Homo sapiens: one gene and its partners. The protein of the gene in region 1 purifies or fractionates together with the protein of each later gene. This does not show direct contact. Each region holds a gene or a part of one and is shown in the gene's direction. Other genes may lie near its edges.

Region 1 (2,580 bases):
ATCATTTCTTTGCGCCAAGGAAGCAGGCTATGTAAAGGAGGCGAAAGCTGCCTAATTCTCCTTAAGCAGAAATTTGTTTTGCGAAGAGAAAACTCTTCTGTAATGTTTAGAATTAGTCAAATCAGATCATTCTATCTGGAGTTTTTGTCAAACAACACTAATGAGTTTATTTAAAGAAAAAGACATTACCTGACAGTTGTATTGTTCTCTTCTTATGGTGGTGCTCTTGAAGGGAGGTGTCTCAAATACTTCCTCTTTTCCTTTCATTTATATTTTTAACTTTTACTTCTCTTCTTATTATACCCTTTAGGCTTTATTGGCCCTTTATAGGGACCCTACTTTGTGTACTAATTATGACAAATGCTGATATAACATCTGCTCCCAGATTTAAATTGCCTTCCAGTCTGTCAGAGTTCATCTTGAAGTCAGCTTTGCTGTAAACATCAGCCTGCCTGTTAATGCAGCCTGTGGGAGACCTGAAGCCGGAGCCCACAGGAGCTACCTGAGATGAGGCCTGTGCAGCGAGCCTTGCTCTATCATGCATTAAACTGTGAAAGAGCAGTGGCTCCATGCACAAGTCAGCAAGCTCTGCATCTCCCGTTTTCCAAATCATCTCACCCTTGATCTTCCCAGAACAATCAGTTGTGCACATGCATTGCACCGCGAGCATTGGCTGGTTGAGTGTAGTCTACGATATATACTGGTGACCCTGTTTGATGCAATTCAAGTCCCTTTAAAGTTGATATTCTCAGGGTCCCTTCCCGCAGAAAAGTGGAAGTCAGGTCTCTCTTTGCCCCTCTGATAAAAATAATTACTAAGATTAAGATCTTCACTTTTCAGCAGTTGATTTTCATAACTTCTTACCAATACCTAATTTCAATTTCAGGATCGTTTCTTGAGAGGGTACCATGAGACCAGTAAGTTAGGGATATGGAACAAGAAAAAACATCTTGAGTTGAGAATACTTGCTTTCAAGTCTTCTCTCTAGATTACTAGCCTTGCTCACCTCTCCTGGCAATAGCTTCCTTACCAGGAAATGGGTAATACCAGAAGAAGATGTGATTCCAGGCCAAGTGTAAGGATAACATAAAGTTAGGTGCCTTAGGAAACTTTTGAAGGGGATGCAAATATTTATCTTGATTTAATGGTGGTTTCACATGGGTCAGCACTCATGAAGTTATACATTTAAAGAATGTACAGTTTATCTGGCCGGGCGCAGTGGCTCACACCTGTAATCCCAATACTTTGGGAGGCCAAGGGGGGTGGATCATTTGAGGTCAGGCATTTGAGACCAGCCTGGCCAACATGGTGAAACCCCGTCTCTACTAAAAATACAAAAAAATTAGCTGGGCATGGTGGCACATGCCTGTAGTCCCAGCTACTCAGGAGGCTGAGGCAGGAGAATTGCTTGAACCCAGGAGACAGAGGTTGTGGTGAGCTGAGATCGCGCCACTGCACTGCAGCCTGGGAGACAGAGCAAGACTCCGTCTCAAAAAAAAAAAAAAAAGTACAATTTATCATGCACCAGTTTTACTTCCATTAAGTGTAAAACATTGGATGTTAGAAGATTTTTAGAAACTAAGTTATTTTACAAGTGTTGTTGTTAGTAGTCCTCATTAATATTTTGAAGGAGAATTAACAAATTCTCGTTGAGTAGAATGTCTTCTTTCAGAAGGAAATTTCAGGTTGGCAATTCATAGAGGTAGCTAAATTCTACTTTCTCTTCTCAACTGTGGCATCGTCGACATTTGGGCCAGATAATTCTTTGTCCTGTGCTTTGGCATCCCTGGCCAGCATCCACCAGGTGCACTGCCTGTGCACCCCTATGTGACACTCAAAACTGCCACCAAACACTGCTGAACACTCTATGGGGCAGAACTGCCTCTTGTTGGGAACTACTGCTCCAGGCTTAGGCCATGTTGCTTTCACAAATTTTTTGTTGTTACTCAGAGTCCAGAATTATTATGTGTAATTCCTAAGACTGTGCCAGGGTTGTTTGGGTTTTTTAAGCACACTGAGACAATAATAAAGGTTTGGGTCTAACCCCTTCCCTCCAGCCCATTTTCTGTTACAGATGAGATTTGCCTGGCCTAAAATATATTAACTATTCTTGTGTGCCCTCTTTTCCTTGAACACATCCCTCCAGCTCCCACATCTGATTTTATCCCCAGTTCCCAGAGCCTAGTCTCACATATGCTTTGCTTTCTCAGTGCCAAAAACGGCAGATAATGTTGCAACAAACATGCAGCAGGGGTCTGGAGCAAGTAATTGTAGTAAGGATTCCTTTTTGTTGATGATTATAGGACATGCAAAAAGATCTGTAAATATCAGTACTTGGAACTGACCCTCTTGTCCTCAGTATTGCTTTCCCTTTATTTTATAAGAAGGATTCAAAACAGATACTGACTGTGCAATTTTAAAATACCAGTAAGCAGCACATTTAACCTTGTACAGATGGCCGGCCTTTTTTTTTTGTTTTTTTTTTTTAATCATCTTTCTATTTAATGAGTAACTGGGAGCGGGGAGGAAATGACTTTTTTAAATAAGAGATTAACTAGTGACACTGTGGCTGAGAGGCAG
Region 2 (3,658 bases), on another chromosome or scaffold:
TCTTTTTTGAAGTCTGCGGTCTGGGGTGGAGAAGGCAGTAACATAGCTCCTATCTGGCAGTGTGGTGGGACCAGCCCTCACCTTCCGCATCCGGCACAATGAGCAGAACCTGTCTTTGGCTGATGTGACCCAACAAGCAGGTAAATATCTCTGCGACCTCAATCCCAGGCTTGGCCCCAGCCCCACTCCTAAGAGGATATATCCAGGCCTGTTGCTGATGCCCCCTTGAAATGTTCCCAGCCCACATGGGCCCTGCCTGCTGCTTGGCAGAGCAAGACAGAGGATGGAGACCACATGGGGCTGGAGCAAGCCTGACCTTTGTCCTCCCTGCAGGGCTGGTGAAGTCTGAACTGGAAGCACAGACAGGGCTCCAAATCTTGCAGACAGGAGTGGGACAGGTATGCGCTAACTGGAGAATCAGTCCAAGTCCCCAGAGGGCTGATGTTGTCCGCAAGAGCTGGAGGCAAACCAGAGGGGAGAACTGGAGCCGAAACGTGTCCGTAGGCACGGCTGGCTGGAGGCGGCCTTCGCCCAAGCAGCCCCTCCCCGCAGTTCTCTTTCTCACCAGCAGATGGCGTAGGTGTCCCCTCCCTGCAGGACCAGCCCTCTGTAGTAAAAAGGCCTGAGAACTAGTTGAGCCGCCCTTAGTCTGCTGGAGCGCAGTCTCCAAATTCCAAGGGAACACCTTGCACAGAAAGGACATTATACTCAAAATATGTTTTGTTTGTTTGTCTGAGACAGAGTTTCACTCTTGCTGTCCAGGCTGGAGTGCAGTGGCTCGATCTCGGCTCACTGCAACCTCCACCTGCCAGGTTCAAGCGATTCTCCTGCCTCAGCCTCCCAAGTAGCTGGGATTACAGGTGCCTGCCACCACACCCGGCTAAATTTTTTTTTGTATTTTTAGTAGAGATGGGGTTTCACCATGTTGGCCAGGCTGGTCTCGAACTCCCGATCTCAGGTGATCCGCCAACCTTTGGCCCCCCAAAGTGCTGAGATTACAGGTGTGAGCCACCACGCCCGGCCTATACTCAAAATACCTTTGTCTTCTGCATCCAACACTGATGCCTCACGTTCTACAATTCAATTCCTAGGGTTCTCTGTCCGTTTTTAAATGCAAACACTCCTGGTGGGGGCCTCTGGCACTGCACTGTGGTTGAGTTGATCCGATGGGGATTGAGAAGGAGAATCTGAGCCCATCTGGCTGTACCACCATACCCCTAATCTCCCAGCTTTGCCCCAGGAGATGTCCTAACAGGGGGTGTGGCATGGGACCGGGGTGAGGAGCAGCTCTGAAACCTCCCTATGCCACTGCCTCCCTTGATTCTAGCCTTGTTCCCACAGAGGGAGGAGGCAGCTGCAGTCCTTCCCCAAACTGCGCACAGCACCTCACCCATGCGCTCAGTGCTGCTCACTCTGGTGGCCCTGGCAGGTGTGGCTGGGCTGCTGGTGGCTCTGGCTGTGGCTCTGTGTGTGCGGCAGCATGCGCGGCAGCAAGACAAGGAGCGCCTGGCAGCCCTGGGGCCTGAGGGGGCCCATGGTGACACTACCTTTGAGTACCAGGTGTGCAGCCCCAGAAGCTGATTGAGCAAAGGAAATGCAAGGGGCCTGGGAGTCTGGGTCTTGCGTGGACTAAGGGTCGGAACTGAATGGGGAGTGAGCCCTCATCCCTGGGAAGGTCCAGTGGAGGCTGGAGAAGCCCCAGTGGGAGGGAGTATGGTAGGGGCCTTTATGAACGCATGGGAATTGGGAGCATACAGTGCCTAAGGTTCTTCTTGGTGCTGTGCTTCTGGGGCTCTGGGATTCCACTCTGTCATGTCTGAGGTTGACATAAGCACCACCCAAGCAAAACAGCCCTGGAAAGGATCAGGGCCAGGCAGAAGACCATACCCCAGAGGAGCTGAGTTCCACTGAAAATCAGTCAAGGGCAAGCCTAGGAGCCCAGAGTTGAACCCAGGGCCCTGTTGAAAAGTTTCAGGGGACTCTTGGACCTCACCTGATTCTTCCTCCACAGGACCTGTGCCGCCAGCACATGGCCACGAAGTCCTTGTTCAACCGGGCAGAGGGTCCACCGGAGCCTTCACGGGTGAGCAGTGTGTCCTCCCAGTTCAGCGACGCAGCCCAGGCCAGCCCCAGCTCCCACAGCAGCACCCCGTCCTGGTGCGAGGAGCCGGCCCAAGCCAACATGGACATCTCCACGGGACACATGATTCTGGTCAGGACAGGGCCTGGGCCCAGAGTGGGTGAAGGAATGGGATGGTGAGAGAGGCCAGGCTGGCTGTGTGGGCCAGAGCCAGACCGTGGTGCCCCCACAGGCATACATGGAGGATCACCTGCGGAACCGGGACCGCCTTGCCAAGGAGTGGCAGGCCCTCTGTGCCTACCAAGCAGAGCCAAACACCTGTGCCACCGCGCAGGGGGAGGGCAACATCAAAAAGAACCGGCATCCTGACTTCCTGCCCTGTGAGTGAACCCTGCTGGCCCACCTGGCCCAGCCCTCTCTCTGCTGCGAGGTCTGGAGGGCTTGGGGTAAGGGGTTGGGCTTCTGGCTCAGGCTGAGTGGCAGAGGTCCCGCGATGCCAATGACCAGAGGGCCATCTGGGGTGGGGTGTCGGGTCTGTGCAGATGACCATGCCCGCATAAAACTGAAGGTGGAGAGCAGCCCTTCTCGGAGCGATTACATCAACGCCAGCCCCATTGTGAGTGGCCCTGACTCCAGCCCCCACCTCTGCCCCATCATTATCCTGGCCCTATGCACTCCATTTCCCCGTGGTCACCTGCCACCCCACCAACCCCCTGGAGTGGTGGGGCCTGATATCCTAGCAAGGGGGAACTGCCAGCCTTCTCAGACCCTGACCCACTTGCTCTGACCACGCCTGTCCATAGTGGCATTTCCCACACTGGCTCATGGTGTATCTTCCCTGCCTCCAGATTGAGCATGACCCTCGGATGCCAGCCTACATAGCCACGCAGGGCCCGCTGTCCCATACCATCGCAGACTTCTGGCAGGTGGGCTCTTAAAGGGAGGGCTTCGCTGGGGTCCTTGTGGCCACGAGGTCCCAGGGAGGTTAGAGTGGAGCTCAACTGGGTCTCTGTCCCTAGATGGTGTGGGAGAGCGGCTGCACCGTCATCGTCATGCTGACCCCGCTGGTGGAGGATGGTGTCAAGCAGTGTGACCGCTACTGGCCAGATGAGGGTGCCTCCCTCTACCACGTATATGAGGTCAGCAGGGCCCCACAGCAAGGGGACAATGGATGTGGGAAGAGTAGATGATGGCCTTTTCGTAACGTTTTCTTCACCAAATGAGCACTCAACAGTCTTTTTAAAAAGGCTTTTATTGGCCCTGCTCATGATTCATACATATATGAATATATATAAACACATATATGCATACCCATATATTCACATATATACATGTGTGTGTCCTGTTTACAGAACATACATGTGTGTGTGTGTGTGTGTGTGTGTGTGTCCTGTCTAGAGTCAAAAAGCGTTCATAGAGACTTATGATAAAGGCACAGAGATCAAACTATAAAACCACCAAAACCGAGGTAAGAAGCTAACAGCTAAGTGTATATTAGACAGGGAAGATAAGGATACCCAAAGACTGAGATTAAGACCTACGTTAATTGAACCTAATTTAGCTCTGAGTTTCCTGGTG
Region 3 (2,652 bases), on another chromosome or scaffold:
TGTATTTTTAGTAGAGACGGGGTTTCACAGTCTTGGCCAGGCTGGTCTTAAACTCCTGACCTTGTGATCCACCCGCCTCGGCCTCCCAAAGTGCTGGGATTACAGGAGTGAGCCACCGCGCCCAGCCCAAATTTTTTTTATTGTGATAAAATATGCACAGTTTAAAATTTACCATTGTAACCATTTTTTTCTTTTCTTTTTTTTTTTTTTTTTTTGAGATGGAGTTTTACTCTTGTCACCCAGGCTGGAGTGCAGTGACGTGATCTCGGCTCACTGCAAGCTCCGCCTCCCGGGTTCACGCCATTCTCCTGACTCAGCCTCCTGAGTAGCTGGGAGTACAGGCGCCCGCCACCATACCCGGCTAATTTTTATATTTTTGTAGAGATGGGGTTTCACTGTCTTGGCCAGGCTGGTCTCAAACTCCTGACCTCAAGTGATCTGCCTGCCTCAGCCTCCCAAAGTGCTGGGATGGGATTACAGGTGTGAGCCGCCGCACCTGGCCTGTAACCATTTTATTGTATCCAGTTCAGAGGCACGAGGTACATTCATGATGATCAAACATCACCCGTCTACTTACATCTTCAAGCCAAATGGGAACCCTATATCTGTTTGCATCTATTTTTAATTTATACAGATAGTATCGTGATAAAGACTTTGATGCTTTTTAAAAAACTTGGCACTGCACACACACATTTGTGAACCGTCCGAGAGCACGTTGCAACATCACGGTTTTACCTCTTAATATTTTTTTTTTTTTGAGATGGAGTCTCGCTCTTCACCCAGGCTGGAGTGCAGTGGCGCGATCTTGGTTCACTGCAAGCTCCGCCTCCCGGGTTCACGCCATTCTCCTGCCTCAGCCTCCCAAATAGCTGGGACTACAGGCGCCCGCCACCACGCCCGGCTAATTTTTTGTATTTTTAGTAGAGACGGGGTTTCACTGTGTTAGCCAGGATGGTCTCGATCTCCTGACCTCGTGATCCGCCCACCTCGGCCTCCCAAAGTGCTGGGATTACAGGCGTGAGCCACCGCGCCCGGCCTACCTCTTACTATTTCAGTGTATATTTCCTAAGATCAAAGATATTCTCTTGTATAACCATAGCACAAATACAGATTTCAGGAAATTGAATTTAGATACAATCCTTTTATCTAATACATAGACTATATTCCAATTTCATTCATTGGCACAATCATAACTTTCAAAGCAGTATTGTTCCTGGCCCAGGAGCCAGTCCGGAGTCGAGGATTGCGTTCAGCTGTTATGTTCCTGTGTGGCTGGGAAGCGGGTCTCAGACGGTTTCATCTGTAAATGTCAGTATCAGCGTCTAATAAAGATAAGCCTCTTTTTAAGCAGCCACGACACCTGATCACACCTAACCACCACTCCTGGCATTGCACATCCGTCTGGTGTTTGTGTTTCCTGTTGTCTTACCCGTGACATGGTTTTCTGTGGTTAGAATTGGGTTGAAACGAGGACTCAGACATGATCAGCTGAGCCCTCGGTCCCTCTCCTGGACACGAAGCTCCCGCCCTAGTGGGGCCCCACGGTGGGTTTTGGTGCCTGGTGCTCGCACAGTTGGCAGAGGGGGGTGGGGGCCTCATCTGGGGTTGGGAGGGGGTGGGGGGCTTTCTGAGGCTGGGCTGTTTATCTGGAGGCCGAGAGCCAGGCTGGGCACAGCCGTGGGTGCTTGTAGGCCTGGACCAGAGACTGCCTTGCAAACAGGTAATTCTTCCCACAGGTGTGGGGCTCAGAGAGGGGGAGATGGGGAGGGCACAAAAAGAGAGCCTCTTGGAGAAGGCGACTCTGAGTGGGGTCCTGGGGCCCCTGTTCGTTTCCAGGACACATCTGCCCTCAGTGGGACGGGCTCAGTCAAGGCCAGCCCAGGGGAGGCTGCTGTGGGCTCCCGCTCTGCTGCTCAGGCGAGCCCTGCTTCTCTTTATGTTTCCCGTTGTCCACAGTTTGGGCAAGATTATTGAGTGGGGTTTTTTTTAAACAATGGAAGTTGATTTTATTTGAAGTTCCATTCTGCCTTTTTTTTTTTTTTTTTTTTTTTTTTTTTGGAGACAGTCTCACTCTATCGCCAGGCTGAAGTGCAATGGCGCGATCTCAGCTCACTGCACCCTCTGCCTCCCAAGTTCAAGCGATTCTCATGCCTCAGCCTCCCGAATAGCTGGGATTACAGGCGCCCACCACCACGCCCAGCTAGTTTTTGTATTTTTAGTAGAGATGGGGTTTCACCATTTTGGCCAGGCTGGTCTCGAACTCCTGACCTCAGGTGATCCGCCCGCCTCGGCCTCCCAAAGTGCTGAGATTACAGGCGTGAACCACCGCGTCCGGCCAACACTCAGTCTTGTGGCAGCACAGCGGGCACCCTGGAGAGACTGGAGCAGGGTGTGTGGGCTGCAGGTCTGGCTCCTGGGATCGCAGATTTCTCCTCTGGCCTCAGACCTCCCATCCAGGCACTGTGAGCTCATCAGTAAAATGTAGACTTCGTAGCACCCCCTCCACAGCCCTCCGTGAGACTCGTGGAGATTTCCTGAGCTGGGCACAGGAGGCCCAGAGTGCCCGCCACGGAGGGGGCTCCTGACCCACTGTTGTTCGTGATGTTTGTGATGTAGGCATCACACTCTGAAGGCGGTTCTAGGAAGCTCTGA

What was found.
Region 2: the proteins of KIF16B (region 1) and PTPRN purify together in Homo sapiens (affinity purification with mass spectrometry; one large-scale study listed by BioGRID and IntAct). This does not show direct contact.
Region 3: the proteins of KIF16B (region 1) and CPNE7 purify together in Homo sapiens (affinity purification with mass spectrometry; one large-scale study listed by BioGRID and IntAct). This does not show direct contact.

What each region holds. Positions count from the first base shown.
Region 1 is NC_000020.11:16,273,983-16,276,562, reverse strand, and holds part of KIF16B (kinesin-like protein KIF16B), read left to right. Parts: intron 1-2,580. UniProt on the Homo sapiens protein: Plus end-directed microtubule-dependent motor protein involved in endosome transport and receptor recycling and degradation.
Region 2 is NC_000002.12:219,295,787-219,299,444, reverse strand, and holds part of PTPRN (receptor-type tyrosine-protein phosphatase-like N isoform 1 precursor), read left to right. Parts: intron 1-60; coding exon 61-140; intron 141-333; coding exon 334-398; intron 399-1,341; coding exon 1,342-1,560; intron 1,561-2,011; coding exon 2,012-2,212; intron 2,213-2,312; coding exon 2,313-2,460; intron 2,461-2,622; coding exon 2,623-2,696; intron 2,697-2,928; coding exon 2,929-3,006; intron 3,007-3,099; coding exon 3,100-3,219; intron 3,220-3,658. UniProt on the Homo sapiens protein: Plays a role in vesicle-mediated secretory processes. Required for normal accumulation of secretory vesicles in hippocampus, pituitary and pancreatic islets.
Region 3 is NC_000016.10:89,592,615-89,595,266, forward strand, and holds part of CPNE7 (copine-7), read left to right. Parts: exon of another isoform or gene 1-1,350; intron 1,351-2,652. UniProt on the Homo sapiens protein: Calcium-dependent phospholipid-binding protein that may play a role in calcium-mediated intracellular processes.